Homo sapiens: one gene and its partners. The protein of the gene in region 1 interacts with the protein of each later gene in a biochemical or structural test. Each region holds a gene or a part of one and is shown in the gene's direction. Other genes may lie near its edges. The genes, in order: MAPK10, MAPK8IP2, ELK1 and MAPK8IP3.

Region 1 (7,022 bases):
TCCTCTTACAGTCTCTTTTAAGCTTTTGGTTGGACATTGCAACAATCATGCAGAAAGAGGCACGGAAGTGTCCAGTAGTGACAAGAATGGAGTACAATGCTCTATTTGCTGCAGGACTGCTGAGTGCCTTCCTCCTACCACACATGCATCTATTATTGCACCTTCTTCTGAGGACCAAGGACTTGTGGAAAAAGTTGGGCCTATAGACTAGTAGGGGAGATGCTTACTGGTAAAGAAGAACAGAATCCATTTGCTTCTTTGGCATATTGGATATATTTATTGCATTACATAAGCCTGAGATGAGACACTGTACTGCTGATTCAGATAAAAAGATCATGCTGCATATTGATTGTTTAAAAAATGTAACTTAGAATTGGAGCCCATCTTTTCAGAAACCTGTACGTGTTTGCAGAGTGAAGTTGTAAGGTTTTGACTCAAGATTTTTCAGTTTGAGTACATTTTATCCTCATGAACCGATCAAGGCAAAGAAGGGGAAAATACAAAACCTGTGTTTTGCATATCTTTTGTTTTCTGTATTTAATAGGGAGAAGCTGTATTTCTTATTGTGAATCTTGGTAGAAACTCTTAAGAGGAGACATCAGGTAATATTGAAAATCACTAAATATAAACATTTTAGGTTTAAAAAGTAGACCTCACACATATACTATTTCTGGTAAAGGATTTTCTAGTTTATTTGATGTTTTGGATCCATATCAAGCCACTATGGCTTTTCTTACAGTTCTTATCTCTGGTGACTATGAGATGTAAAATCCTTGAGGCTTATGGAAATAATGCTAGTAGGAATGGAAATTGAAGTTTTCAATGGAAAAAGAAATGAATACAGTCTCCTGAGAAGCATCCCTAACCACAGCTGCTCTAAAACCCTGCATGGTGTGCAGGTTTAAGGCAAAGCTTCCCTATAAGGCAATTGGGCATTTGCAGTGACCTGCACAGTAATAAACAGGATTTTCACTACCTTGTGTTTGTACACGTGTGTGTGTGTGTGTGTGTGTGTGTGTGAAGAAAAACAAAAACAAAAACAGCAGTGACTTTAAAGTTCTAGAAATTCATCTTAGTGACTTGTCTTCATAGAAATAAAACTGACTCCTGTTTGTCTGTGTTAACCTGCCTGGGTGCCCTATGTGCTTTCTGAAAATGGATTGCTTAAAGCAATTGTCCTCTTCTTATACATTGGAAATAGGATCTGAAAGCATTGATAGTGAAGGAAAGCTCTTAGGTTAGGTCTGTTTATTTGGCAATGTTTATTCAGTGTTTGTAGGCGGAAGCTCCAGCACAGCATTTATATAATATAGTAATTGCCTATTCTTCTATTACCTGTATTCTCTACTAAGGTTTAATCCCCATCAGGGACTGACTTTTTCTGTTTGGCACACAATAGGGACACACCAAATATTCATTGAATGAATATCTCTCATGTACTGAGTTCTCTGCTAAGTGCTATGGTAGAAAAAATTGGGAAACTGTAACACAGTTTCTGCCATTTGGAACCTATACTCATTTGGGAAGATGAGGCTAAATAACAATAAAGATGGTATAAAATCAAGGGCCCATATTAGTGTTTTGATAATGAGTGCAATAGAAATTCAGAGGAGAAAGGAATTTACCTCCTCTGAAGTGATGGTAGGTGACAATGGGGCTACACTGGGGTGTTGGGGTGAGGTGGTGGGATAGTGAGAGGGTGGTAGTCCTAGGAGTAATTGTGAGCACCTGGGCAGGAAAGAAACTCTTACTTGGGGTAAAGAGGAGGCCTATTTTGGGTATGATGACCATATTTTCCAAACTAGAAATAAAAACTTATGGTTTGACATTGGGTAGAATGTTGCAGACTGCCACATATTCTGAAGAATCTTGTCTAATATAATGTTGGGAAGTAACAGGCTATAATGGTGAAAAAGTAGGTTAGTAACTAGAAGAACATAAATACAGGTCTCTTCAGATGAGCTCCAGCTTAGGTTTACTTTCTTTTGCATACTTCAGAGGTTTTCAAAATTCTCCTCCTTTATTGGTACCTATGTAACCATTGTTCCAATGAAATCTTGTATGAAAAGCAGAATATGTAAATCTATGTAATAGTGGAGCTGTCCCAGTTGAGGATGAGTGGGGTGCCTTGTATTAGAAAACCAAATTCATATCACAAGACTAATTATATTAACTGAAATAAGAATTACTAATTTAGTTTATGCTCAGATATTAAAATAGTTGTTCTGGTATTATAACATCAAAGTTCTTGTGCTTGCAATAAATGATGAATAGAGATAATTACCTTGAGATATTTTCTTTCCTCTGCCTACACTCACCCACCCAGTAACCAACTGTCTTTGATGTCAGCTTTTTGGTTTTCTAAATACAAATTTAAATCTTAAAATCAAACTCATCTGTTTTTTGGCTTTGCTTTCAGGCTAGTGTGAGAAACACCAACAGCAGGCCCATCTCAGATCTTCACTATGGCAACTTATGCAAGAAACTGTTGAATTAGACCCGTTTCCTATAGATGAGAAACCATACAAGCTGTGGTGAGTTGCCAATTTAAAAATATTCCTTAGCATGAAAACTAGGATCTATATAGCCAATTTAAATATTGCATATGGTTTTGTACATGGAGCTGGAGAAATACTGCTCCAAATAATTTCGACTACAGAAGTGAAAATCAATAGAACAGAAGTTTAATAGTTGGTGTGGTACTACTAATACCACATACAGTAGTGAAAAGTCTTGAGGTGCATGGGTGCAGCATATAACACCATGATACTACCACCATGGATGATACCTGCAATTAACATTTTCATGTGGCAGAGTAACAGTTGGGTACCATTATTTTTAAGTGACTTTTATTATTTGCAACATTGTACTATATTTTACAGATTCATCTCCTTTAGTAGAAAAATTGGTTCTGAGCTAAATTATGGTTTTCTTTCAGGAACACACACACACACACACACAATTTAGCTCTTCTGAAATAAGAGAAGAGAAATCACAGTTTTATAAAACTCAATTCATGGGCATTTTAGCCTACAAATCCTTTTGCTTAACAAAGCAATGTTAAAAATAGATACAGTTGCTCTGCCTAGTTGGAATGACTTTAAAACTTATTACTTTATAAAAATATCAGCACACACAGGTAGAATGTCTTTTTAAATCAAATACTTGATGCTTCATAGTCACCAAAGTCAATAATCAATAGATTCCAGCAGAGATGAACGAGTTATAATCTGTCAAATAACATCTTTGAGAACTAGAGTATGACTGTGGTGCTTATAAGACTCCAAAAGAAGCTATTTTGAGCTAGTGATCAATATCTTTCTTTCATTTGCCTAGTGGCTTATATAACTGTAGATAGGTAGGCTGCCCTGTGAATTAATGCACAGCCTATGACTGCGGAAGACTGATGAAATTAATCCTAGAGTTATTTCATATAGTGAATTTATAAAACAATTCATAAAAAACAATCCATCTACCATTATATTGAGAAAGCAGATCTAATAGCATCACTATACTGTGCTTAATTAACATGTATTCAATGAGCGTTATAAATAATTTTATGCAATTGCCAATAACAAACTATTTTTGACCTAAAATAAGGGCAATTTTATATGGTTGAAACTAATATATTATGTGTTACTCCCAGTGATGTAGAAAGCATACCATGTTCTCTCCATTCTGAATATTAATTCATTAATCAAACTCTTATTGAGAATCTGTGATGTAGGTAGAATGTTTAGCTTTTGGGGCAGATAAAAGACAGTCCTTGCTTTAAAGGAGCCCTCAGTCTAAAGAGTGGGGTACTTACAATAAAATGTGCTTATTAATGGAGGTAGTTGTGTTCTAAAGAGTGTGGCACTTACAAAGTGCTATTACATGGGTAGGTCTAGAGTGCCAAAGGAAGTGCATCAGAGGAGACTCTACCACGGATGTGGTAGAGATTAGTCAAGGAAGACTTCCCAGAGGAAGGGATCTTTTGGTGGACTATTAAGCACAGTGAAAGGATAGCCAGAGGAAGGGAGGATGCAGTGCACAGTGGGAACATTTTTTAACAGACCCAGAAGCCTGAGAGAGCATGATTGTGTGGGAATACTAGGTATCATTTACTATGCTGAAGCAGAAATGGTAGTGGCAGAGATAAAGTTGAAGAGGGATACAAGACATGTGCCATGAAGGATCTCTTAGACAAAATTAAGGAGTTTGGATTTTGTTTCAAAGTGAAGAGCTTTTGAAAGATTTTAAATAGGAGATTGACATAATCAGTTTATTTTTTAATTGTGAAATATACCATACGCATAGAAGAGTGTATAAAACAAATACTGGTTAAAGAATAATTATAAATCAAACATCATGTAAACAAATCAAACAACATAAAACAAATCAAGTAAATCAAACATGATGTAATAGACTCCCAGCAAACCCCTATGTGTCCCTTTCAGATCACATACTTTTCCTTCCCCACCATAGGTAACCGCTAGCTACTATCCCACCTTTTGTCATGCACATTACCTTGCTTTTCTTTGTAGGTTTTCCATCTATCTGTGCATCTCTAGGCTATGAATCTTAGTTCTGCCTATGCTTCAGCTCCATGTATTTGGAGTTACAGCATGTATACTCTCAATCACCTGATTATTCTGCTAACATTGTGAGATTCTTTCATGTTCATGCATGTAGTTTATTCATGTAAATTGTTGTATAGTATTCTATTGTATCAATATGCCAATATTTACTTATCTAGTCTATTGTTGTTGAACATTTGGATTAAATCTATTTTACTTAATGCTAGTATAAATATAAATATAATATCATTTTTATGTTTATATATATTAGTTCTCATAGTTTCTGATATTTACCGTTTTCTAGGATAAATAGCAAGGGAAGGAACTGCTGAGTTTTGGGGTATGTGCGCCTTTAATTTTACTAAATAATTCCAAAATATTTTCCCCAATCAGTTGCATCAATTTACATTCCCAGCAGCAGTATATGAGAAACTCTGCATTCTCACCAACACTTGATTTACAAGTTCTTAAATTTTGCTAATCAGGTAGATACATAATTGTACTCATAAAAGTATTAATTTGCATTTTGCTGATTACTAATGAAGAAGAGCATCTTTCCATTTTTTGTTTTTTGGTAATTTGATTTTCGTCTTTTGTGAAGTACCTGCTCAAATCTTTTTGAGATGTGTCTTTCAAAATGATAACTAACACTTATTGAGTTCTCACTGTGTAATAGGCACTATAGTAAGTACTTTACAAATAGTTCATCTTCCTAGTATCCCTGTAATTTAGAGGTAAGGAAACCAAGGTTTAGAGAGGTTAAATCAGTTGCTGACAATCACATAGTTAAGGAACAGTGGACTTAGCATTCAAGCCCAAGTCTTTCTGACTCCAGAATTCTTCAGTTTCTCGGTGTTTGGAAGGGGATTTGGTTGGAACCAGGGAGAACATCTAAGGTGCTATTGCAGGAATCCAGTTAAAAAAATAAGTGCATAAACCAAAGAATTGCTAGTAGGGCATATGTAACAAACAACTGGACTTGGTAATGAATGTGGTGGGCAAACAAGAGGAAGGATTTTTAAAGTCTCAAGTTTTAATACCTGTCGGCTAGGTAGATTCAATATTTGTCATAAAATGTGTGTGTGTGTGTGTGTGTGTGTGTGTGTGTTTGTGTATACACACTGTATATATATATACACACACACATTGTATGACTAATGTTGTAATATATTGTCATCCTTTGTACATATATTGTACAATACATTGTCATATATATATTGCGTGTGTGTGTGTGTATATATATATATATAAAATACAGATATTGTGGTAGGTACTAATAATTCATTTTATAAAGTCCAGGTATTGTAGGTACTAAGAGTACATTTTGTGAATCTACAATTCAATGAGATGAATTTAGTTCACAGGCTCATAAATTTTAGGGTTTAAAGCAATGACACTGTTCATTTGGGTCAAATCTTCACTTTTTTTTAAAGATATGGAAGCAACTGCTAAGGAGGGTAAGTGGCTTGTCCAAGATCACATGTTTCTAAGTGTCAGGTTAAGAATAGATACGATGCCTGCAAAAAAATGCAAAGAAATAACAACCACCTGATTTTTAAATTAACGAGTGATGACACAATCAACCTATTCTATTTCCTAACCATTTCTCAGACAAGTCCTTTTTCATCTAAATCTGTTGTTACTGCCATAATTTAGGTCCTCATCATCATCTTTGGCAGGTTTATTTAAGTAGCCTAGCATACTATCTTCTTGTCCATTATTCTACCAGTGAAGCCACCAGACTTGTTATTTGATTTGCAGTTGTTACCGTATAATTGCCCTACTTAAAGAATTTTCAATATACTCTGTCATCCATGTAATAACTTCCCTTTTCCTTAAGACATGCCATACTTCTGGCCAGGTGGGTGGCTCAAGCCTTTGTAATCCCAGCACTTTGGGAGGTCAAGGCTGGTGGATCAGCTGAGGTCAGGAGTTTGAGACCAGCCTGGCCAACATGGTGAAACCCTGTCTCTACTAAAAATACAAAAATTGGCCAGACGTGGTGGCTCACGCCTGTAATCCCAGCACTTTGGGAGGCCGAGGTGGGCGGATCACGAGGTCAGGAGATCAAGACCATCCTGGCTAACACGGTGAAACCCCATCTCTACTAAAAATAGAAAAAATTAGCTGGGCATGGTGGCGGGTTCCTGTAGTCCCAGCTACTTGAGAGGCTGAGGCAGGAGAATCACTTGAACCTGGGAGGCAGAGGTTGCAGTGAGCCGCGATCGTGCCACTGCACTCCAGCCTGGGCGACAGAGTGAGACTCCGTCTCAAAAAAAAAAAAAATTATCTGGACATGGTGGTGGGCACCTGTAATCCTAGCTACTCAGGAGGCTGAGGCAGGAGAATCGCTTGAACCTGGGAGGCAGAGGTTGCATTGAATCGAGATTGCACCACTGTACTCCAACCTGGGCGACAGAGCAAGACTGTCTCGCACACACACAAAACAAAAAATGATATGTC
Region 2 (7,022 bases), on another chromosome or scaffold:
TGCTGGAAGAGGCCTGGGTGGTGCAGAGAGGGTGACCCCACCTCCCTGCCCAGCAGAGCTCCCGGGCCCCCTCCCTGCCACGGACACCGGGCCCGGCGGGGCGCAGTCGCCAGTGCGCCCGGGTTGCGACTGCGAAGGGAACCGGCCTGCGGAACCCCCTGCGCCAGGGGGGACTTCGCCCTCCTCAGATCCCGGCATCGAGGCTGACCTGAGAAGCCGCTCGAGCGGCGGCCGCGGGGGACGTCGCAGCAGCCAGGAGCTGTCCTCGCCCGGCTCCGACTCGGAGGACGCGGGCGGCGCGCGCCTGGGGCGCATGATCTCGTCCATCTCGGAGACGGAGCTGGAGCTGAGCAGCGATGGCGGAAGCAGCAGCAGCGGCCGCTCCTCGCACCTCACCAACTCCATCGAGGAGGCCTCGTCGCCCGCCTCGGAGCCGGAGCCCCCGCGCGAACCCCCGCGCCGCCCCGCCTTCCTGCCCGTGGGCCCCGACGACACCAACAGCGAGTACGAGTCGGGGTCGGAGTCGGAGCCGGACCTCAGCGAGGACGCGGACTCGCCCTGGCTGCTCAGCAACCTGGTGAGCCGCATGATCTCCGAGGGCTCCTCGCCCATCCGCTGCCCCGGCCAGTGCCTGTCTCCTGCGCCGCGCCCGCCCGGGGAGCCCGTGTCGCCGGCCGGCGGGGCCGCCCAGGACTCCCAGGACCCCGAGGCGGCCGCGGGGCCCGGCGGCGTGGAGCTGGTGGACATGGAGACGCTGTGCGCGCCGCCGCCGCCCGCGCCCGCCGCGCCTCGACCCGGCCCCGCGCAGCCCGGGCCCTGCCTATTCCTCAGCAACCCCACGCGTGACACCATCACGCCGCTGTGGGCCGCGCCCGGCCGCGCCGCCCGCCCGGGACGAGCCTGCTCCGCCGCCTGCTCCGAGGAGGAGGACGAAGAGGACGACGAGGAAGAGGAGGATGCCGAGGACAGTGCGGGGTCCCCCGGGGGCAGGGGCACGGGCCCCTCGGCGCCGCGGGACGCGTCGCTGGTGTACGACGCGGTCAAGTACACGCTGGTGGTGGATGAGCACACGCAGCTGGAGCTGGTGAGCCTGCGGCGCTGTGCTGGGCTGGGCCACGACAGCGAAGAGGACAGCGGCGGGGAGGCCAGCGAGGAGGAGGCGGGCGCGGCGCTGCTAGGCGGCGGTCAGGTCTCGGGGGACACCTCGCCGGACAGCCCTGACCTCACTTTCTCCAAGAAGTTCCTCAATGTCTTCGTCAACAGCACATCTCGGTCCTCCAGTGAGTGAGAGGTGGGGAAAAGGGGGGTGGCCCAGAGGAAGGTGCAGACTCCCTGGCCCCAGTCCCAGGGTCCCCCACAGTGCCCAGGGCCACCTGAGGGTCTGGCTGTGGTCAGGGCTGGGTGCCCTCTCCCACCCAGGACATGGCATGAGGTGGCCTGCTCTGCCTCAGCTCCTTCCCGCTCGTAGGACACCTACACCGGACTGTGGAGGGGACTTGGCCTCTGCCCAAGGCCAGGCCTCTAAGCACTACTCTGACTCTGTCTCCCTGTCTCCCCCGCCTCTGTCCTGCCGGGTCTCCCAGGCACCGAGTCCTTTGGCCTTTTCTCCTGTCTGGTCAACGGCGAGGAGCGAGAGCAGACTCACCGGGCTGTGTTCAGGTACGGCCTCCCTCCTTGCTGGCGGTGGCCCCAGCCTCAGTCCCTGCCATCACGGAACGCCAGTGGACACGACCGTCAATCCCGCCCCCCTCCCCAGTGACCTCTCCCCCAACGGCAGGTTCATCCCGCGGCATCCAGACGAGCTGGAGCTGGATGTGGATGACCCTGTGTTGGTGGAGGCCGAGGAGGACGACTTCTGGTTCCGTGGCTTCAACATGCGCACGGGGGAGCGCGGTGTGTTTCCTGCCTTCTACGCCCATGCGGTGCCCGGCCCTGCCAAGGACCTGCTGGGTGAGGTCCCAACCCCGAGGGGAGGCTTTTCACCCCAGATCCTCCCCTGTGCCCCTGCCTGACCTGGGCCCTCTGTGCCCCGCTCCCCAGGGAGTAAGCGGAGCCCCTGCTGGGTGGAGCGCTTTGACGTGCAGTTCCTGGGCTCCGTGGAGGTGCCCTGCCACCAGGGCAACGGCATCCTGTGTGCAGCCATGCAGAAGGTCAGTGTGGAGGCCGGGCAAGTGCAGGCTGAGGGTCCGCTTGGCGGCCACACCAGCACTGCAGGCTGGCACAGGGCTTGAGGCTCCAAGGTCTGAGGTCTGATTTCCTCCAGGGAGGGTCTGGGGGATGCTGCAGGGGGAGCTCGGGGTGGGTACCCCAGGCCCTGGTTCAGAGGCCTGAGCAGGTGAGTCTAGGGCAGAGCACAGCAGCTGTCCCTCATCACCTCTGGGTCTCTGGGCCACAGATCTTCCAGGTGGCCCCGACTGCCATCAGCCCTTCCTCTTCCCATCTGGAATCAAGACCAGCCCTCACAGCCCCTTCCCTGGGAGCCCTCTACTCATCCACTCACTCAGTGGACGTTTAGTGAGCACCTGCCCAGGCACCAGTACTGAGGCTGAGGCTGGGGGGCAGTAGGGAGCAGGGCAGAGCAGCCCAGGGCGGGTGAGGTCTCTGTTCCTGGCTCCTGAGCCAAGCGCAGCAGCCTGCCTGGAGGAGCAGAAGGAAGATGAAGCAAGCTGACTGCAGAGAGGCGATTGCTCCTCCTGAGCCTGAGGAGTGGCCAAGGCCACACCCCTTATGTCTTCCAGAATTGCATCTCAGGGTCCTCAGCATGTGTGTCCTCAAACATAAGCTAAAAGGAGCAGAGGCGTAGTCCCACCAAGGGGAAAGAAAGGCCCTTGTGGGCTCCTCAAGACCCTCTTCTCCCCCAACTTCTTCTGTAGATTGCCACTGCCCGGAAACTGACCGTCCACCTGCGCCCTCCTGCCTCCTGTGACCTCGAGATCTCTCTTCGGGGGGTCAAGCTGAGTCTGAGCGGAGGAGGGCCCGAGGTGGGAGTGTGGGGGACTGGGGACCGGGGACTGGGGGATAGGGTTAGGCCACGGAGTCCGACGGGGCCAGGCTGGCAGGGGTGTCCAGTAGGTGGGAGGCAGGGGTGGCGCCAGGCCTCCTTTGACACAGGGACTTCTGCCCACCTCTGCTCTAGTTCCAGCGCTGCAGCCATTTCTTCCAGATGAAGAACATCTCCTTCTGCGGCTGCCATCCCCGCAACAGCTGGTGAGAGTCTGACCGTCCCCGAGTCCCCCAACCGCCCCCACAAACCCTGAGAGTCCAACCGCCCCCTGAGTCCCCACAGACCCTGAGGGCTGCCCGTGCCCAGCCCTGAGAGCTCCACCTGCACCCACTTAGCTCTGTGAGCTGAGCCTGCAGTGGCGCCTGCTCTGAGCTGGACTCAGGAGGCGTGGGTCAGACAGGCTTGCATCCAGTCTGGGTGGAGAGAGGCACACGGGCGAAGGATGTGAGAAGCCTGTGTGGGTGCAGAGGACGCCTGAGTGGGCCTGGGGCTCAGGATGGCCAGCCTGGAAACACAGCAGGTGACAGCGGTGGGGAAGTGGATCTTCCTGGTGGGGTCTAGCTGAGCCAAGGGTGTGGGATGCACTGGTCGGGGGCTATATAGGCTCTGGGGCCCGCGTGTAAGGGGAGCAGCTAGAAATGCCGGGGAAGACCTGGACCCTTTTGATTATGCCAAGGAGCTGTACTTAATCTTGCTGGTAATGAGGCCATAGAAGGCTCCTAATGGAAGGAGGTGACACAGGGGACCTGGGGGCTGCTGAGGTTATACAGGTGCTATGTCCTGAGACCAAGTGTGCAGATGCAAGAGGCACTGAAGAGGCAGTACAGGCAGGACCTAGGTTGACCGGCTGTAGAGGGTGACCTGGAAGAGACCAGGGTGACGTCTCCCTGGGGGATGGTTGTACTGCAGCCCACACACCGAGAGGGGATGCGGGATCAATCACAAACGGTGAGACTGAAGTGGCCGTTGGTCCCATGGGTCTGGAGTTTAGGAGGGAGACCTGGAGGGAAGATACCAGGTCAGAGCAGGTAGATCACTGAGACGAGAGGGGAATGGCCAGGCAGGGTGAGGGGAGGAGGGGAGGAGGAGGTGCTGGCATAGGAGCAGCAGGCCAAGGGGGGCTGCCAGCTTCCCTCCAGGCACAGGCCCCTGCCCTCTGTGTCCCAGCACCCTAGAGGAAGGAGATCTGGGAGGAACCAGAGAGGCAGAGCCAGCCAGAGGCTGGAAAGGACTTGCGGGGAGTTGGAGGAAGCAGGCTCACAGACAGGCAAGACACAGCAGGGCACGGTGCTGCCAGGACTGAGGCGTGGGACAGACGTCAGTGCATCTTGGGGGCCTTGTGGACTCTCCCTGTGGTCGAGAGTGAGGGTGCTGCCTGCTGGAAGGTGCGGAGCCCTTTTGTGTTGTCCCCGCCGAGTGCAGAGATGGTCTGATGGGATCCATGCGGAAACGCTGCTCAGTGGGGTGGAGAGGTGGGACAGCGGGCAGCGATGCAGACCAGACTGCGGGGCCAGCTCTGGGGTGGAGAGGTGGGACAGCGGGCAGGGGCGCAGACCAGACAGCGGGGCCAGCTCTGGGGTGGAAAGGTGGGACAGTGGGCAGGGGCGCAGACCAGACAGTGGGGCCAGCTCTGGGGTCACCAGGACAGCGAACGGGGCGCAGACCAGACAGCAGGGACAGCTCTGGGGTGGAGAGGTGGGACAGCGGGCAGGGGCGCAGACCAGACAGCGGGGCCAGCTCTGGGGTGGAGAGGTGGGACAGTGGGCAGGGGCGCAGACCAGACAGTGGGGCCAGCTCTGGGGTCACCGGGACAGCGAACGGGGCGCAGACCAGACAGCAGGGACAGCTCTGGGGTGGAGAGGTGGGACAGCGGGCAGGGGCGCAGACCAGACAGCAGGGACAGCTCTGGGGTGGAGAGGTGGGACAGTGGGCACGGGCGCAGACCAGACAGTGGGGCCAGCTCTGGGGTCACCGGGACAGCGGACGGGGCGCAGACCAGACGGTGGGGCCAGCTCTGGGGTCACTGGGACAGCGGACGGGGCGCAGACCAGACAGTGGGGACAGCTCTGGGGTCACTGGGACAGCGGACGCTGCCAGGAGAGGAAGAATGACCCAAATTTCTCATCAGAAGGAAACTGGGTGAAGCTCAGGTCTCAGGCTGGACAGGGCCCCAGCTAGAATTTCGTGAGAGGAAGGTGGTCAGTCGAGTTTGGGGTTTGGAGTCAAGATGTGGCAGGGGTGTGGGAGGAGGTGGAGGAGCTGCTGCCCTGGCCCAGACCTTCCTAATATTTGTCACCCCAGACCCCCCGTCCCCGGTCCCTTGCCACGAGGAGGCACGGACGAAACCGTGTGAGGTGAACGATGAACTCGTTTCTTCATGGCGGTGGTGGTAGGTCAGGAGAGCGTGGGGTGTGCTGTGTTGGGATCTGGCATTAGGATGTCTGGTGTTGGGATCACAGACTGTAGCCTTTTCTCCCAGGGCTGCCCATCCTGCCTGTGTGTCCTGGGCAAGCTCCTGAACCTCTGTGCCTAGCTCTCCATCAGGGCCCTACCTCAGAGGGCTGTTGTGAGGCTTCTGTGAGTTAATGGAAAGGGCAGAGGATGGTGCCTGAGTAATGCAGGAAGCCAGATCTGTGGGTCGGCGCTTATTACCATCATGACTTGAACGCGGCATTTGAGGCGGGCCCTGTGCTCTGTCTGTGGACAGCGTGCACACACTGTCCTGGCAAGCAGACCATCATGTGGCTTCCCATTTGGTGGAATCGCAAAGCCCCGAAGCCATGGGGGAATGGACGGGTCGGCCAGTTTCAGGGGTGGGGGTGGGGCAGCGTCCTGCTGCAGAACTCTGCCTGCCTCTCCCTCTGGACGACGATTTTTGATTTTTGCTAATGTCTGGGTGGAGGAGCTGGGCAGTGACTCCATGAGCGAGGCCCCGCAAGGAGCTGCTTTCCAGTGGGAGCGAGGGGTAGACCGGAAGAGGGTTTTACAGACCAGGGGTAACGTCCAGCCCCACCTCGGAGCTGGGCAAGGGGCTGTCAGTCTGCTAGGCCCGCAGGAGGAGGCCTGAGTTGGCAGGAGATATGGTCTCCAGTAGCCAGGCAGAGGCCTTGCTCTGTGGTCCTGGGGCAGGCCCTGAATAGGGCCACAGAGGGTAGCAGCACCGGCTCAGAGAAGGGAGAGTGGACGCCCCTGGTCATCATGGAATTAACTCAGAGCGTGAACTCTTGGTAGGTGCCCAGCCCTGTGCTTGGGCTGAAACCAAAAAAAGACAACTTCAGATCTTGAAATTGTGCGACCCCCACACTCCTGTCCCTTACCCTCTCCCCAAGCCCTTTGTTCCTGCCTCTTCTCTCTACATCATTTGTGGGGTGGCCAAGGCTGGGCCAGGGCTCTGACGTGCCCTCCACACTGACTTGCCCGCAGCTATTTCGGCTTCATCACCAAACACCCCCTGCTGAGCCGCTTCGCCTGCCACGTCTTTGTCTCCCAGGAGTCCATGAGGCCGGTGGCGCAGAGTGTGGGGTGAGTGGGGCCCCAGGGTGTGGGTGCAGAATGGGTGCAGGGTTACGGAGGTGGGGAGCGGAGGTGAGCAGGTGGGGGCAGGAGCCTGGCAGGGGAGGTCTGGGGAAGGAGAACCAGATGTGCTGTGTAGAGAGGGCAGTGGTGGGTGACAGTTTGGGGTGCTGGGCATGGGGTGGGAACAGGCACAGACACATGGCCCAGGCACTCTGGCAGGGGTAGAATTGCTGGGCCAGGAGAGCTGAGGGTCACACTTGGGGGTGACATGGCCATGCCTGGGTGGGGGGTTATGGATGGCTGCAGAGGGAGGAAGGAGGGAGAGCTCAGAGGCTCTGTGGAAGGCAGTTTGGGGGTTGAGGACCGGCCCTGAGTGGCTGGTGGAGGACCGTCTTTCCCCAGCCGCGCCTTCCTGGAGTACTACCAAGAGCACCTGGCGTACGCCTGCCCCACGGAGGACATCTACCTGGAGTAGCCTGCCCACCGCTCTGTCTCCTGGCCG
Region 3 (7,915 bases), on another chromosome or scaffold:
TTTCAAACCTTTCCAGCCATGGGAAGGACTAGCAGGTGCTAGTGGACCCAAAAGAACCTCAGACCTGCTGAGATTTCTGATTCTTGGTGTTCAGACCAATTAGCAAATAGTTTAATTAAACGGCCTGCTTTCATGGTCAACACAATTCTGAACTGGTGGTCATTTAGACCAAGTCCACTTTGTTTTTGAGACGGAATTTTGCTCTTGTCGCCCAGGCTGGAGTGCAGTGGTGCGATCTTGGCTCACTGCAACCTCTGCCTCCTGGGCTTAAGGGATTCTCCTGCCTCAGCCTCCCAAGTAGCTGGGACTACAGGCACCCACCACCACTCCCGACTAATTTTTGTATTTTTAGTAGAGACAGGGTTTTGCCATGTTGGCCAGGCTGGTCTCAAACTCCGACCTCAGATGATCTGCCCACCTCAGCCTCCCTAAGTGCTGGGATTGCAGGTGTGAGCTACCGCGCCCAGCTAAAGTCTAGTTTGTATAAGAAGGCTTTCCTTGTTATGTCACAGGATTCCTGAGCCTATCAAATAGATTTTAATGTTTTGAGACTCCACGTACTTCCCCAAAATGAAGTATTTAAATTGTCAGTGCCTGCCCCCTTGCCTGGTCTTTTTGATGTACTGACCTGGTCTGTTAGTGTGATGAAAAATATGGTTGAGTCTTACTGCTTTATTGTAATTAGTAGGACTGTCTAGAAGTTTAATTTTTCTAAGAGATGAAGATTTGAGTCTATGTAGCTGGCTGTCCTTTAAAAATATTTGGTTACTTGGGATATACTTTGAACTAACTTTCTGGTCATTTTATGTGATCAAAAGTGTCAGTTCTTCCTGTTCTTAGTATATTTCTTTGTTTGGGAAGTGGAAGGGATGAAATCTCTATATTCTTTCCTGATGACACAGAAAGGAGTACACATCCACATCTCATGAATAGACATGTAATTATAGAAGAAACAGCCTAACGGCCGGGCGCGGTGGCTCACACCTGTAATCCCAGCACTTTGGGAGGCCGAGGTGGGTGGATCACGAGGTCAGGAGTTCAAGACCAGCCTGTCCAAGATAGTGAAACCCCGTCTCTACTAAAAATACAAAAAATTAGCCGGGAACGGTGGCAGGCGCCTGTAATCCCAGCTACTTAGGAGGCTGAGGCAGGAGAATCGCTTGAACTCGGAGGGTGGAGGTTGCAGTGAGCCGAGATCACGCCACTGCACTCCAGCCTGGGCGACACAGTGAGACTCCATCTCAAAAAAAAAAAAAAAAGCATAACCATATGACTATTCACACTGCCTTACATACTAAATCAGTAGTAATTTGCTTCTCACATAGCAAATAAAAATAAATCAGCAGTAATAAACATATCCCTTTTGTGTTACAGCTAGCATTTGGTGAACTCTGTATTTTTCTCCCTTTTAAAGTGTTGAACTCATAGGTTTTCATAAGGTAAGCTTACACCATTAACTAATTTTGTTCTCTTTTTTGATGTTAAAATTGTCCCTTAGGAGCTGATCAGGTTCATTCTTCTGTTCTTTAAGCATTACCCCCAGAATATTCTTGAAAGTATTCTTGCTCTCTGGCAACAACACCCATACTTCATTTATTTCCTGTCCCTAAACATACACTCAGCCAACCTCAGGTTCCTTTTAATGGAGTAGTCACTTATTCATTCAACATACGTTGGGTGCCTCCTCTGTGCCACACACTGTTCTGGTCCCTGGGGATAGAGCAGGAAACAAAAAAAAACAAAATCTGCCCTCATACAGCTGACATTCTAGTCAGGGGAGACAAACAATAAACAAATGAATGATGTAGTATGTCAGATGTTGACAGTGCTATGGAGAAAGCATATCATGGAGATCAGAAGCATTACCTGCAATGGAACAGTCATGATTTTAAGAAGAATGGCTGACTGGATGTGAAGTGTGAGAGAGAGGAGCCCAGGTTTTTGGCTGAGCAACTGGAGGGATGGAGTTGCCATTATCTGAGATGGAGAAGTTAGGGGAGGAGTAGATTTGGAGGGGAAGGTCAGGAATTTAGTCTGGAACCTGTTAAGTATGAGGCACTTATTAAACACTGAAGTGGATTTTTAGAAGATGTCATTAAAACTAGTCAAGTTCAGGAGAGAGTTCTGGGCTAGAAATAAAAATGTGGGAGATATTGGTATATACATGGGTTCATACTACTTTTTTTTCCAATTTAACATCCTATCTTATTGCTCTCTGCTTTTCCAACAGTATTTAGTTTCATTTACCCCTCAAACTGACTCCTACATTGACAGCACAATAAAATCCACATTCCTTATTATATTAAGACCCTGTGTGATCTAACCTCTTCCTATCTCTTGGACCTTGTCTTAGGCCACTTTCCCTCCCCACTCAATTTCTAACACTCTGACCTCACTGCTTCTCAAACAGCTCTTTGTTGCCTCTTGTCCTTTTTGTGGAAAAGGCCTTCCTACTGCTTAACCATTAGGCATTCTTCGATTCCTTCTCATTCTTCATTCTTGAGAAAGGCCTTCCTTGACCCTTTATATCAATTAGGATTCTTTTGGGCGAGATCTGATCCAAACTGGCTTAGAGAAAAGGAGTCAACTGACTGGTTCATGTAATTCAACCTCCTTCCTCTGCTGCAACCTTCCCTTGGCTCCCATCTCACTTAAGGTCAAAGCCAGGGTCCTTACCATGGCCTTGTAGGCTTCACACAGTTTGTCTCCCTCATTACCTCTCTGACCTCACCTCTTACATTCCCCCTTCACTTATTCTTCTCCAGCCAGAGTGGCCTCTTTGCTGCACCTCAAACATGCCAGGCACACTCCCACCTCAGTGCCTTTGTGTTTGCTGCCCCTTGTGTGTGGAACACATCCTCCATATAGCCACACTACTCAAAATTCACTGTCTTTAAGTCTTTACTCAAATGCTTCTCCGTGAAGCCATCCCTGAGCCCTCTTTAAAATTGCAGCCCCCCACTCCTGTACTCCTTATTGTCTCTCATTTTTAATTTTTGTTATTGTAGTTAGAACCATCTGACACATAGCTTTTATTCCATTGGTTTTTTGTTATGTCTTTCTTTACAAGAATTTGAAGTCCATCAGGCCGGGAGTTTTGTTTGTTGTGTTTGCTGCTATCTCCCAGTGCCTAAAATTGCCTGGCATACAGTAGGCATTTAATAATCTTTGAATCAGTGAAAACCAGATGGTGGCTTGGCATTTCCACATAGGAATGAGCCAGGTGGAAATCATCCAGGATATAAGTAGATCTTGAAGTGATAAGGAAGGGTCATCATAATCATGTGGGGCCCATTTTGCCCTTTCTTGTTTCTTTTCTCTAGGCTCAGCAACAGCCTCACCAAGGACTCCATGAATATCAAAGCCCATATCCACATGTTGCTAGAGGTGAGAGCAGCTCACCCCACTACCAGACTCTGTGTTTAGGGTGGTGACCTGAAGAAGGAAGAGAGCGAAAGAAGGGAAGGACCATCTTTCCCTCTAAACTGGAGTCAAGGGAGGGAGGTCAGAGCAAGCCTGGGGGCGTAACCCAGACCCAGTCTTTGTTCAATCTCTTCTGTCCTCTTTTTCAGGGGCTTAGAGAACTACAAGGCCTGCAGAATTTCCCAGAGAAGCCTCACCATTGACTTCTTCCCCCCATCCTCAGACATTAAAGAGCCTGAATGCCTTTGAGTCACATGGCCCTTCTTTTTCCCCATAAACCCTGCTAGTTGCCACGGGGGCCTGTTCCTAGGGCACAAAGTTACTGAGAGACCCAGAGATCCAGTCTCTCTGTGGAACCTCCAAAATGCCCCAGCAGTCCTGCCTCCAGCCTGTTGCCTGGCAGTATTTGCCAGTTGACCTTATGCACTGCCCTCTCTTCTGTCATCTTGGCAACCTGGGCCCCCCACCTCACCCTTTCTTCCATTCCTTTTCCTAGACGCCACCCTTTGAATTGCCATAGAGAATGGGCCAATTCATGGTGGAGGTTTGTTCATTCCCACAACAATCAAAGGGCCCTAAGGTTTACGCTTTCACACACCCAATCATTCCCCAGGTACCCCAAATTACACCCAAACCCTAACTCAGCCCTACCTTGTCTTAGCCCCTGCTTGTAAGTGTTCCAGCTTCCAATGGGCACAGACCTGGATCCCGCTCTCCCTAGTCGGGCCCCTATTCTAGGTTGAGTCCAGCCACCGCCAATCAATGCAGAGCCAGGTTCCTCCCCTTTTTAACTCTGGCCGCAGTTCAACCCTGCCCTCTGAAAGCATTTCGTTTCTGCCACTCAATGCTCTTTCGTGTGCCTGACAGCCATCCTGCCCTCCTACCTCCGCTGTGTTCTAAATTCGTCTTTACCCAGCTCTATGGTCTTGTCTAACCGTAGAGCTGCCCTGCCCGCCTACGCGGAGCCCAGTCCGACCCACTCCCGCCGGCTGCTACGCCCATTTCTATACAAGCCCTGCTTCCGCTGAGCAGCATGGCGTGCGACACCGCCCCCTTGGTGTTTTGGCAGGGGTCTAGAAGTCCCTCGTCCGCCAATCAGAGAAAAACAGGGCCACCCACCCCCGTCCTTGGGGGCTGTCTTCCATCAATCCCATGTAAGCCAATCAGTGTGAGGCAGACCCCCGCCCCCCCGACACAGGCCCCGAGCCTTTTCAGTTGCTCACAGTCCGTCAGTCCTTGAGCCAATCGGCGTGGAGCACCGTGAAGGCCGAACGCGCCTCCTCGGGACTCCAGGGGCCGTGAGCGTTCCATCATTTCCCCTTACGCCAATCACGGCACAGCTCTGTAGGGAAGGGCCCGTCCCCCAACCCCTCGAGGCCTTGCGGCCGATTAATAGCGCTTTGGCCAATCAGCGAGCGGCGGGACATTGGGCTCCTCCTCCTCGGGCCCACGTGAGCTGTAGGGAAACGCAGGGGCGGCTTCTAGGTGCTGCCGCCGCCACCGCCACCACCACCTCCACCGCCGCCTCGGAACCCAGGCCTGGGGGGCGGTGGGGCCGCGTATGGAGCCCCCGCCCCCCGGAGCTGCCAACATTGCCAACGCCACCGCCACGCTACACACAGGTGAGCTCTGGGCCTGGAGGGTGGAGGGCCCAGTCCGTGACCCCACGTATCCTTCCCGCCCCCGCGCAGAGGATGTGGCTTGGCCGGTGGCCTGCTGGTGTTCGACTCCCCGCCGCCACCACCACGGCTGGTGGACCTGCGTGTGGCATTGCTCAAGCCCTTCGTCCCTTATAGTGGATCTGACCGTGGCCTAACCTCCCCCTCCCGTTGTATAATGGATCGGTCTGCGTGCTTATGTTTTTCCCCACGCCAACTTAGGGTGGACTCGTCCATAGGCTTTCCCCCTACCCCTACCCCCACCCGCCCCCCACCCACCCCCACTTATAGGGAGCTAGCCTGTGACAGTGTTCAGCCCCCTTAATAGTAGGTGTATCTGAGTGTTTGGATTTCTCCTAGCCTCAACTTTCAGGAGACCCGTCCGTGGCCTTATTTATTCCACCCTTCCTGTACATCGTAGCGAATCAATCCGTGGCGCCGCACTCCTCCGCATCCCTCTTTAACAGTGAGTCTACCTGAGTTTGTATTCCTGCCTCCTCCAGTCCCCCAATGCATCAGTCCATGGCTTTTTTCAAAACCACCCCCCCCCCCCACCACCACCACCACCATTTTATAGTGGATCAGTCTTCATGTTTGGATTCACGTCCCTTTAGCTATCAGTCCATTGCCCTGTCTCCTCTTTTTCGTAGACTGTCGCTCTAGCGCTTGGGGTTCTCTCCTTTTTAATAGTGGGTTAGTTTAGTGCTTTACATCTCCCTATTTTCAGTAGCTCAGTCCATAGCCTTTTCCCTCTCTGCTTTGAATCAGTCTGTGTGATGGCTTTTCTCTCCTCTCACTGTGGTGCAGGAGTCTGTAAGGTTTTCTGCTCCCCTTCCCCTCAGACGATGAGCCTCATCACCCCTCCCTTTGCAGTGGATCTGTTCATTGGCCTTCCTCCCCCACACCCCTGTATGCTTGCACAGTCCCCCGCATACCCTCCCGTGAGTCCAGTGCTTTGTAATTGGGGGAAGATCGGCCGTGTACTTTCAATTTCCTTCTCTTTTTTTTTCCCTTCCCAGAAGAGAACGTGCTGATCCTCTTTTCCTTGTGATGGAGCACTGTACGGCCTTCCCTGTCCTCCACCTCTTAATAGTGGGTCAGCCTGGTCACACTCGTAACCACAAAGACGTTCTGCCTCACTACAATAAGTGAATACATTAGCGCCAGTGATGATAGTAATGCCAATAGGAGCTAGCGTTTATTGAGCACCTGCCGTATATCAGGCAGAGTGTTTCATATGAATGAGTTCCTTTAATCCTCACCACAACCCCATGAGATAGGTAGTGAGGGAATTGGGCCATAGGGAGGTTAAATTCCTTACTCAAAGGTGGCCCAGGAAGTACTCAGGACACAGGATAATTTTTGAGGCTCCCCTCTTAGATCTCATCCCACCCCACGTGAGGCCTCAGTCCTTAAAAACCAAATTAGTTCTCACCTCCAAGCTTTTGTTCTTGCTGTTCCCTCTGCCTGCAGAGCAGTCTTCATTCCTCACCTTCTCTCAGCACCCACCCACCCCCCAATCCCAGCAGCTGTGTGACCTTAGATGAGTGATTTAACCACTTCCTCTCTGTGCCTTTTTCTTCATTTGTGAAATGGGGGATCAGAACTAGAATCCCTTCCAGTGTAAATAAATATTAACTGTGAATTAATGGTAAAACAAGTAACCTTTCTAGCATTACCGCCTATACCTTCCCACCCCCTTACTGTGCTCCAACCACACTGGTTCCACCACACAGCTCCTCAAACATAGCAGGCATGGGCCAGCCTCAGGGCCTTTGCATTGGCTGTTCTTTGTGCCTTGAACACCACCCCCAGATCTCTGCATGGTTCCTTTCAGCACTCTGTTCAAATACCAACCCCCAAAGGATGTTTACCACACTGTGGTGTGTGGAATGCAGTATAAAAAGATACATGTATGAAAGATGTTTCTAAGAATGCCAGTTTATATATGAGTAAGGGTTTTCCTCCTTTTCAAAAGGATGTGTTCACAAGACTGAGGTACGTAATATGCTCTGTAAAGGCATAGGTATAAAAGCTGTTTCTAAGAGTGCTAGTTGTATATGTGAATAAGGACTGTGTTGTTGCATTGAAAGAATGTGTTCACAAAACTGTGGTGTGTAGCTGGGCACAGGGGTGTGCACTTATAGTCCCAGCTACTCGGGAGGCTGAGGTGGGAGGATAGCTTGAGCCCAGGAGTTCCAGGCCAGCCTGGGCAATATAGCGAGATCCCTTTTTCTGAAAAAAAAAAACCCAAAAAACAACCACTGTGGTGTGTGTAATACACTCTCTTAAAGGCACAGGCGTAAAAGATGTTTCTAAGAGTGATTTGATTTTGTTGTACCTGGGTAGTGTTATTTCATTAAAGGTTGATTGTCACACCATGGTACTTAGAATATACTATACAAAGGCACATGTATAAAAAAGAAGTTCCTAACAATGCTACTTGTAAAAACAAAAAAAGTCAACCCCTCCCTGACCATCTGAAGCTGCACACCCAGCAGGGCTCAAGCCAGGTCCCTGATTTGTCCCGTTGCCCTTTATCACTGTCTGACACACTGTGTGGGTTACTTGTTTGTTGTCTGTCTCTCCTCATTAGAATGTGAGTCCCATGAGGACTCAGTTTTTGTCTGCTCATTCACCGCTATGTCTCCAGCAACTGAAAATGTACCAGGTAAACAGCAGATGCTCAATAAGAATTTATCCCATGAATAAATGGGAAAAAGATAATTTGAGACACCAGTGTAGGGGTCACATGAGGAAGAAGAAGGGATATGAGAGCTAATTAGTTGGGACTGTTCCTGCAACCAACCTTTACTGAGCCCCTTGTGAGTACC
Region 4 (7,022 bases), on another chromosome or scaffold:
ATCCCTGTTCCCATCTTCTTGCCGGTCATTACCACAGTGACTCCCAATGTGCTCTGATAACAGGCAGCTGAGTGTATGAGAGTGACAGGAGCTAGAGAGGGTGGGGTCTCCCGAGAGACTGACCCAAGCCGTGGAGTCTGCAGACCCCAGCCTGAGTGTCAGCCCGGCCCTCAGGAGCCACACACCCTGGGTCCATCCTCTTCCCCTCGCTGGGCTGCAGTGGCCGCGGACTTTGCAAGTCAGTTTCATCTCAAGATCCAAGCACCATCACTGGCTGTTGGTTGCCTGGAGAATTGTGGGCAGGCAGATGTAGCAGAGTCAGGGCAGAACCCTTGACGGGTTCTCAGGGCCGCCGTGGACGGCAGGCACCGGACATTGCTAGCCGCCTACCAGACAGTGCAGTTTCTGGTTGTGCAGGCTCTGATACAAAGTTTTTTAAAACCCTCAAGTTATTTCCCAGTGGAAAAGAAGAAGGTGGGAAACAGCAGCTGAACGGGGTGGGGGCTGGCAAGGAGCAGATGCTGCCTCCACACGCACCGTCCGGTGCAGCTCCAGAGGAGGGCCGGGCAGAGCCACCACGTTTGCCGGGCTTACCCGGGCAGCAAAGAGCCCTTCTCCCATAGTGATCAACTGCTTAGCTTACAAGAGGAAAAATAAGGTGTGAGAGATGACATGTGAATATTAGTGGTCATTATTTGCCTTAAAATCTTCTTAACCCTAAAGAAACTGCTGCTGGTAACACCCCCCAGGCTCATGGCAGGCAGCTGGAGTGGGTGTTCTCTCAACAAGCCCAGATGGTGATGTTTGCTGATCATTCGGCATTTGATGCTATGTAAGGAAAGGATGCAAGGGAAGACAGTTTTATCCAAAACTTATTTTTTCCGAGTTAAATAAAAGTTACCGGCCAGGCGCAGCGACTCTCACATGTGTAATCCCAGCACTTTGGGAGGCTGAGGCAGGCGAGAGATGAGGTCACGCTATGTTGCCCAGGCTGGTCTCAAACTCCTGGACTCAAGCAATCCTCCCACCTCAGCCTCCCAACATTTGACATTGAACTCCTGACCTCCTCATCTCAGGTCAGGAGTTTGAGACCAGCCTGGCGAACCTGGCGAAACCCTGTCTCTACTAAAGAAAAAAAAAAGAAAAAAAAATTAGCCAGGTGTGGCGGCAGGCCCCTGTAGTCCCAGCACTCGGGAGGCTGAGGCAGGAGAATCACTTGAACCCAGGAGGCAGATGTTGTGGTGAACCAAGATCATACCACTGCACTCCAGCCTGGGCAACAAGAGTGAGACTCTGTCTCAAAATAAATAAATAGATAAAAATAAATAAATAAATGTCATCCATTTCATAGACTATTTGGGTAGGATTCAGCTGGAGAAAACAAACACCATAATCCCGCTCTACAGAGATGATCAGTCTGCCATTTTTCCTTCTTTTTTTCTCCTCTGCGCCAGACGATCTGCAGGAAGTCTTTTCCATCAATGAATTAAGATGCTGAATCAGAAATTTTTATTTTTGTTTTTCATATGACAAATAGTAAATCCACCACTGCTTGGCCAGAGTATGCGATTTCTTTTCCTGCCATGTTATGATATTAAGAACAGTTTTTTAAAAAATGTTTTTTAAATGAAGCTATCAAGATGGGGCTGCCAGAGCTGCCTTTCCTAGGTGCCTCTGAAAGCTGGCCTGGTGTAGCTGTACCACTCACCAGGAGTACAGCAGTCTCCCTAAAAAGTGGAGCAAATACATGTAGGAACCATGGAGAAGGAGGTACCTGCCAGCCAGAGAGAACACGGGACAGAGGCCGAAGTGGCCCGGAGGCCGCTGGGCGCAGCCTGCCCCTCTGCCGCTCCGCTGCGGGAGCCCCCGGGCCACGCTGGCAGCAGTCAGACAGGGCCGAGAGCTGAGAGAAGTCAGTTCTTCCAAAATTAAGATTTCTAAATGAAATATCTGTTTCATTTTTACGTTTTTAAAAACCATTTTGAAATATGTACAGAAAGGTTGCAGAATTAACACTCCTCACCCAGCTTCCCAAGTGCAGGCGTCTTCCCACGCTGCTTTCTCTGGCTGTGTAAGGGGCTCAGGGGTCCCTGTGTCCTTGTTGTGTCCTGTGTTCTGCGGTGGCCCCTCGTTCTCTGCTCTTATTGACCTTGACCATTGCGACAACACAGTTCAGTCACTTTGCAGCTGTGCCTCAGTCTGGCTCATGGGCCCTGGGGACCAGATATGGAGCATGTCCTCAGGCCTCAGCAGGAAGACCCATGGCATGCAGAGCCTCCTAGATCCTTAATCTGTGCCAGATGGGCATCAGGTGAGGGGCACAAGATTTTTGGATGGGCCCCTTTCCCAGGTTCCCATTTATTACCAGGGCTGGAGGATGAGCTGTTAGTGCATGAAAATCACTACAGAAGCTTGCCCAGGAGCTGCATGGGGTGCCGGCTCTCCGGACTTGTTTTCCTTTGCCCTGTTGAAAGTTGGGGTCCCAACGCTGGGCGCAGTGGCTCACGCCCGTAATCCCAACACTTTGAAAGGCCGAGGCGGGTGGATCATGAGGTAAGGAGTTCGAGACCAGCCTGGCCAATATGGTGAAACCCCGTCTCTACTAAAAATACAAAAATTAGCTGGGCATGGTGATGCACACCTGTACTCCCAGCTACTTGGAAGGCTGAAGCAGGAGAATCGCTTGAACACAGGAGGTAGAGCTTGCAGTGAGCCGAGATTGCAACGCTACTGCACTCCAGCCTGGGCAATTGAGGGAGACTCCGTCTCAAAAAAAAAAAAAAAGAAAAAAAAAGAAAACTGAGGTCCCGAGCTCCCCTTGTCACCCCAAGTATCTAGCCGCCACTAGGTCCTGGTGTTCTTTTGGCCTCAGGAGTTCTTTTTTTTTTTTTTTTTTTTTCTTTTTTGAGATGGAGTCTCGCTCTGTCACCCATGCTGGAGTACAGTGGCGCAATCTCGGCTCACTGCAAGCTCCACCTCCCAGGTTTATGCCATTCTTCTGCCTCAGCCTCCCGAGTAGCTGAGACTACAGGTGCCCGCCAACACGCCCGGCTAATTTTTTGTATTTTTAGTAGAGATGGGGTTTCACCGTGTTAGCCAGGATGGTCTCGATCTGCTGACCTCGTGATCCACCCATCTCGGCCTCCCAAAGTGCTGGGATTACAGGCATGAGCCATCGCGCCCGGCCAGCCTCAGGAGTTCTTTAATGTCCCCACTTTTCATCTCCTTTGCTGCCTTCTGCTTCCAGTCACCACCATCCCAGGGTCTCCCGGCCACTCCCACCGCCGCCACTTTGCCAGCCCAGAGAACCCTCACAAAGCATATCTGGTCTCTGAGTGCTAGGGTGAATTCCAGGCAGGGGGATTAGCTGATTGCTCTCCTGGGGCAGACTGGACATCTCAGGTGGTGATAACATGAGGGGATCTGAGTGACAAGGTGGGCCAGGACACTGGGTGGACAGAGTGAGGCTGTCTTCCCCAGGTGGCCCCCCACTGGGCCCACCTCTCACCAGCCTCATCTGCCTCTGGTCTTCTGGCTGCCCCCCATTCTGCAGACCTGCAGTTCCTGCCTCCTAGACCACCTGCCCCCACCCCTCCCTCGGGGTTTATCTGGCTAGTTCCCGTCTCTGCCGGATTCGCTGGTGTCTGCCTCCGCAGTGCACCTGCAGAGAAGCCCCCATCACCCACTCTGCCGCCCCTGCCTGGGGAGCTGGGCCCCCACCAGGCCTCTCTCCCGGCTTCCGCAAGTTAAGCTGCTCCCTGCCAACAAGGGGCCGGCACCCTTTGGTTCATTCAGCCTGAGCCTGTTGTTTCCTTTTCTCGGCACACCCGGAGATGCTGGCCATCTGTGTGTGTGGATAAAGGGAAGCCGGCTTTCCTCTGTCTCTGCACACATCTCACCAAACTGTGCAGTTCCGGAAGGTCAAGGACTGTCTCTTTGGAGCAGCCTTTCTGACAGAACGTTCTGGGATGATGGAAATGTTGTATTTGGTGCTGTCCACTTCAGTAGCTGCTGGCCACATAGGGCCGTTGAGCATTTTAGGCATGACTCATGGAACTGAGGAACTGGATTTTTAGTTGTATTTACTTGTTTCGGAGATGAGGTCTCGCCACGTTGCCCAGGCTGGTCTCAAACTTCTGGACCGAAGCAATCCTCCCATCTCAGCCTCCCGAATAGCTGGGACTACAGGCTCGTGCCACCATGCCCGGCTGTGTTTTATTTTAATTAATGTAAACATGTGGCCAGGGCTTCCATACTGGACAGTGTGGCTGTGGGCAGTCTAGCTGAGCTGCCTGGAAGCAAGGGCAGATGGTGAGTTACTCAGCTTCATGCAAGAAAGGAAGATGCTTAAAGGGTGGGTTTGTTTCCTGTTTAATGAACATTTTCCAGAAAGAGGGGAGATCCCGTAGCAGTGGGTTTCAGATACAGGAGACCAGACAGGAGAAAATATTGTGAGATGGGAAAGTGGATGCCAGCAACAGGAAACAGCAGAGAGGGGCTGAAGTTCTCGAAAGGCCAAGAAGAGCCTGGTGGGAAACCGCTCGCACCTCAGGACTGCCTGTGCTCAGGGCACAGGATCGACTTTTTCGCCTTGGGCTGCTTTTTGTTTTCTTTCTGTGGGTAACAATTTTATTGCAGTATCATTGACATACACTGAACTGTACATACTTAAAGAGTACAATTTGATGAGTTTTGAAATACGTATAAACACCAGAAGCCATCCCTGCAGTCCAAGCAGCGTAGACGCCCGGACCCCAGAGTTCCCTGTGTCCTATGTAATCCCCCTCCGACCCCTCCTTGCCCCACCTGTCCCCAGGTAACCACTGACCTGCCTTCAGTCACTGTAGGTTAATTTGCATCTTCTAGAGCTTTGCATAATGGCCTCCTGCAGTGCGTACGTGGTTTCCTCTGACATCTTCCACTCGGTACAGTGATTCGGGGACTCACCCAGGCTGTGTGTGTCCTTCCCCCATGGCCAAGCAGGGTCCCAGCAGTGCCGTTTGTCCATCCGCCTGCCTGCAGGGGAGCTGGGCGGCTTGTTTTTACGTAACCTTCACGCATGAGCGGTTTGTAAGCCCGCTCACCCCGTTGGCAGGGTGTTGGGCCAAGCACTGCTCTGGGGCAGGCTGGCAGTGAAACCCAGAGACTAGAATCCGCTTATGAGGGGGGTGCGTCTTTGCGGAGACCCTTAGAGCCCACAGCATCATTACTCTGGTGCATTTTCTTTTGAGCCACTGTTACGGCAAGAGATCCAGGGCGTGCCACGTGAAACGCGACAGGGCCTTTCCTCAAGACCTCTCCTCCGTGTGGTGCGTTTCTCACACAGGGTCTAGGACATTTCAATTCTTGTTATCAACAACCAGATTCAAAACTTGCCTTTTGTTAAAGTTTCGGGGGGCCCCTTCCTCCCCAGGCCTCTGGGGAGTTTGGGGCTCCTGTTCCCTAACCTTTCCTCAGCCAGCCTGCCCATCACCTTTCCTTCTCCCCAGGAAATGAATTCCCAGATATACGCACAGTCCCAGTGGGCCCTTGCACACGTGTGTCTCTATGTCCCTGCCTCGGGTTAGAGCATTCATGTTTTGAGAGCAGGGACCCTTTGGCTACTGAGAAGAGTGAACTGAGGCACGGTTAGCAGGCCTCTCGTTCAGTGGAACCAGAGGGAGTCGGAGGTTGGGGCTGATTAGGAAGTTTCAGAAGCCAATGTAAACTCCTAAGAATGCACCAGAGAATAAAAGTTTACTTGAGAATAATTTTTCCCAGGGAGATGTTTCATAGGATGGGACACTTAACTTGAGGTTTTGGTTTTATCTTCATTTTTCTTCCGCTGGTACCAACCATATAAATTTATATATATATTTCCCAATACAAATGTATATGTACTAGTAAGACAGATGGGAAATATATATATATCTATTTCCCATCTGTCTTACCCATTCTTGAAATCAGTTCGTATTCAACCAGTTGGGATTTGTTTTACGTGGACACTGAACCCAGCCATCCCTTTCACAGAACGTGAGGAAGCCTTGCTTTTCAACCTGGTTTTTGGAGTCCCGAGCTAGTGGCCAGCTCTCTCAGCCCCACACGTAATACCTGAATGGAGAAATGTCCTTCCCTCGACCCGTGTCCCGTCCAGCAGGCTTCAGGGGCAGCTTTGTAACTCCAGAGCCACCCCCTGCACGTCCTCTCTCTGCATTTTAGACCTAGGTGGCCAGGCAATTGTGGGAAATGGAAAGAGCTCTGACTGCCCCCTGCCAGCCCAGGGTAACCACAGCCATGCGAGGTCCCTGCCCGTACCTGGGAACTAGCCATGAAGGGCATCTGCCAGGCACGTGCCCGGCACCTGTCTGCCTGCTTAAGATAAAAGACCAAAAATGAGCGTTTTTCCTTTGGAAATTCATACTACACCCTCATTCCCAGGGAAGGAAATAAATTGATCGGTATTGCACAAGAACGAGATCTTTGATTCGTGTCAAGATTCGTTTCTAACCAACCAGCCAGAGCTGAATTGTTTCTCGCTGGTGAGCCTGGCCTAACAAACGTATGAGAGGAGAGGTTTGGATTTTTTTTTTTTTTGAGATGGAGTCTCACTCTGTCGCCTAGGCTGGAGTGCAATGGCGTGATCTCTACTCACTGCAAGCTCTGCCTCCCGGGTTCAAGCGATTCTGCCTCAGCCTCCTGAGTACCTGGGATCACAGGCGCCCACCACCACACCCAGCTGATTTTTTGTATTTTTAGTAGAGATGGGGTTTCACCATGTTCGCTAGGCTGGTCTTGAACTCCTGACCTCACGTGATCTGCCCACCTCAGCCTCCCAAAGTGCTGGGATTTCAGGCGGGAGCCACTGCACCGGCCGAGGTTTGGATTTAATGTATTACTTTACTCAGCAGGAAAGTGTCCATGGGTTGTGAAAGTTACCAAAAGCCTGTTGATCGCCCTGTGAAAGAACTTTCCTGGCCATTGCTCTGACATTCTGAGTCCAGAATACTGTCATCTTGATTTTATATTGGACATTAAAAGTCAGT

The links.
Region 2: the proteins of MAPK10 (region 1) and MAPK8IP2 form a complex in vitro, tested with the Homo sapiens proteins (one study listed by BioGRID).
Region 3: of the proteins of MAPK10 (region 1) and ELK1, one has a biochemical effect on the other in vitro, tested with the Homo sapiens proteins (one study listed by BioGRID).
Region 4: the proteins of MAPK10 (region 1) and MAPK8IP3 form a complex in vitro, tested with the Homo sapiens proteins (3 studies listed by BioGRID, with this or other methods).

Annotation. Positions count from the first base shown.
Region 1 is NC_000004.12:86,350,042-86,357,063, reverse strand, and holds part of MAPK10 (mitogen-activated protein kinase 10), read left to right. Parts: intron 1-2,419; 5' UTR 2,420-2,534; intron 2,535-7,022. UniProt on the Homo sapiens protein: Serine/threonine-protein kinase involved in various processes such as neuronal proliferation, differentiation, migration and programmed cell death.
Region 2 is NC_000022.11:50,603,785-50,610,806, forward strand, and holds part of MAPK8IP2 (C-Jun-amino-terminal kinase-interacting protein 2), read left to right. Parts: intron 1-53; coding exon of another isoform or gene 54-56; coding exon 57-1,280; intron 1,281-1,583; coding exon 1,584-1,659; intron 1,660-1,777; coding exon 1,778-1,950; intron 1,951-2,040; coding exon 2,041-2,150; intron 2,151-2,873; coding exon 2,874-2,981; intron 2,982-3,136; coding exon 3,137-3,207; intron 3,208-6,427; coding exon 6,428-6,526; intron 6,527-6,922; coding exon 6,923-6,995; 3' UTR 6,996-7,022. UniProt on the Homo sapiens protein: The JNK-interacting protein (JIP) group of scaffold proteins selectively mediates JNK signaling by aggregating specific components of the MAPK cascade to form a functional JNK signaling module.
Region 3 is NC_000023.11:47,647,553-47,655,467, reverse strand, and holds the start of ELK1 (ETS domain-containing protein Elk-1), read left to right. Parts: upstream 1-4,904; 5' UTR 4,905-5,045; intron 5,046-5,441; 5' UTR 5,442-5,547; intron 5,548-7,915. Other genes in the region: protein UXT, read left to right, coding at 3,324-3,387, 3,573-3,626. UniProt on the Homo sapiens protein: Transcription factor that binds to purine-rich DNA sequences. Forms a ternary complex with SRF and the ETS and SRF motifs of the serum response element (SRE) on the promoter region of immediate early genes such as FOS and IER2.
Region 4 is NC_000016.10:1,709,174-1,716,195, forward strand, and holds part of MAPK8IP3 (C-Jun-amino-terminal kinase-interacting protein 3), read left to right. Parts: intron 1-4,355; exon of another isoform or gene 4,356-4,614; intron 4,615-4,828; exon of another isoform or gene 4,829-5,018; intron 5,019-7,022.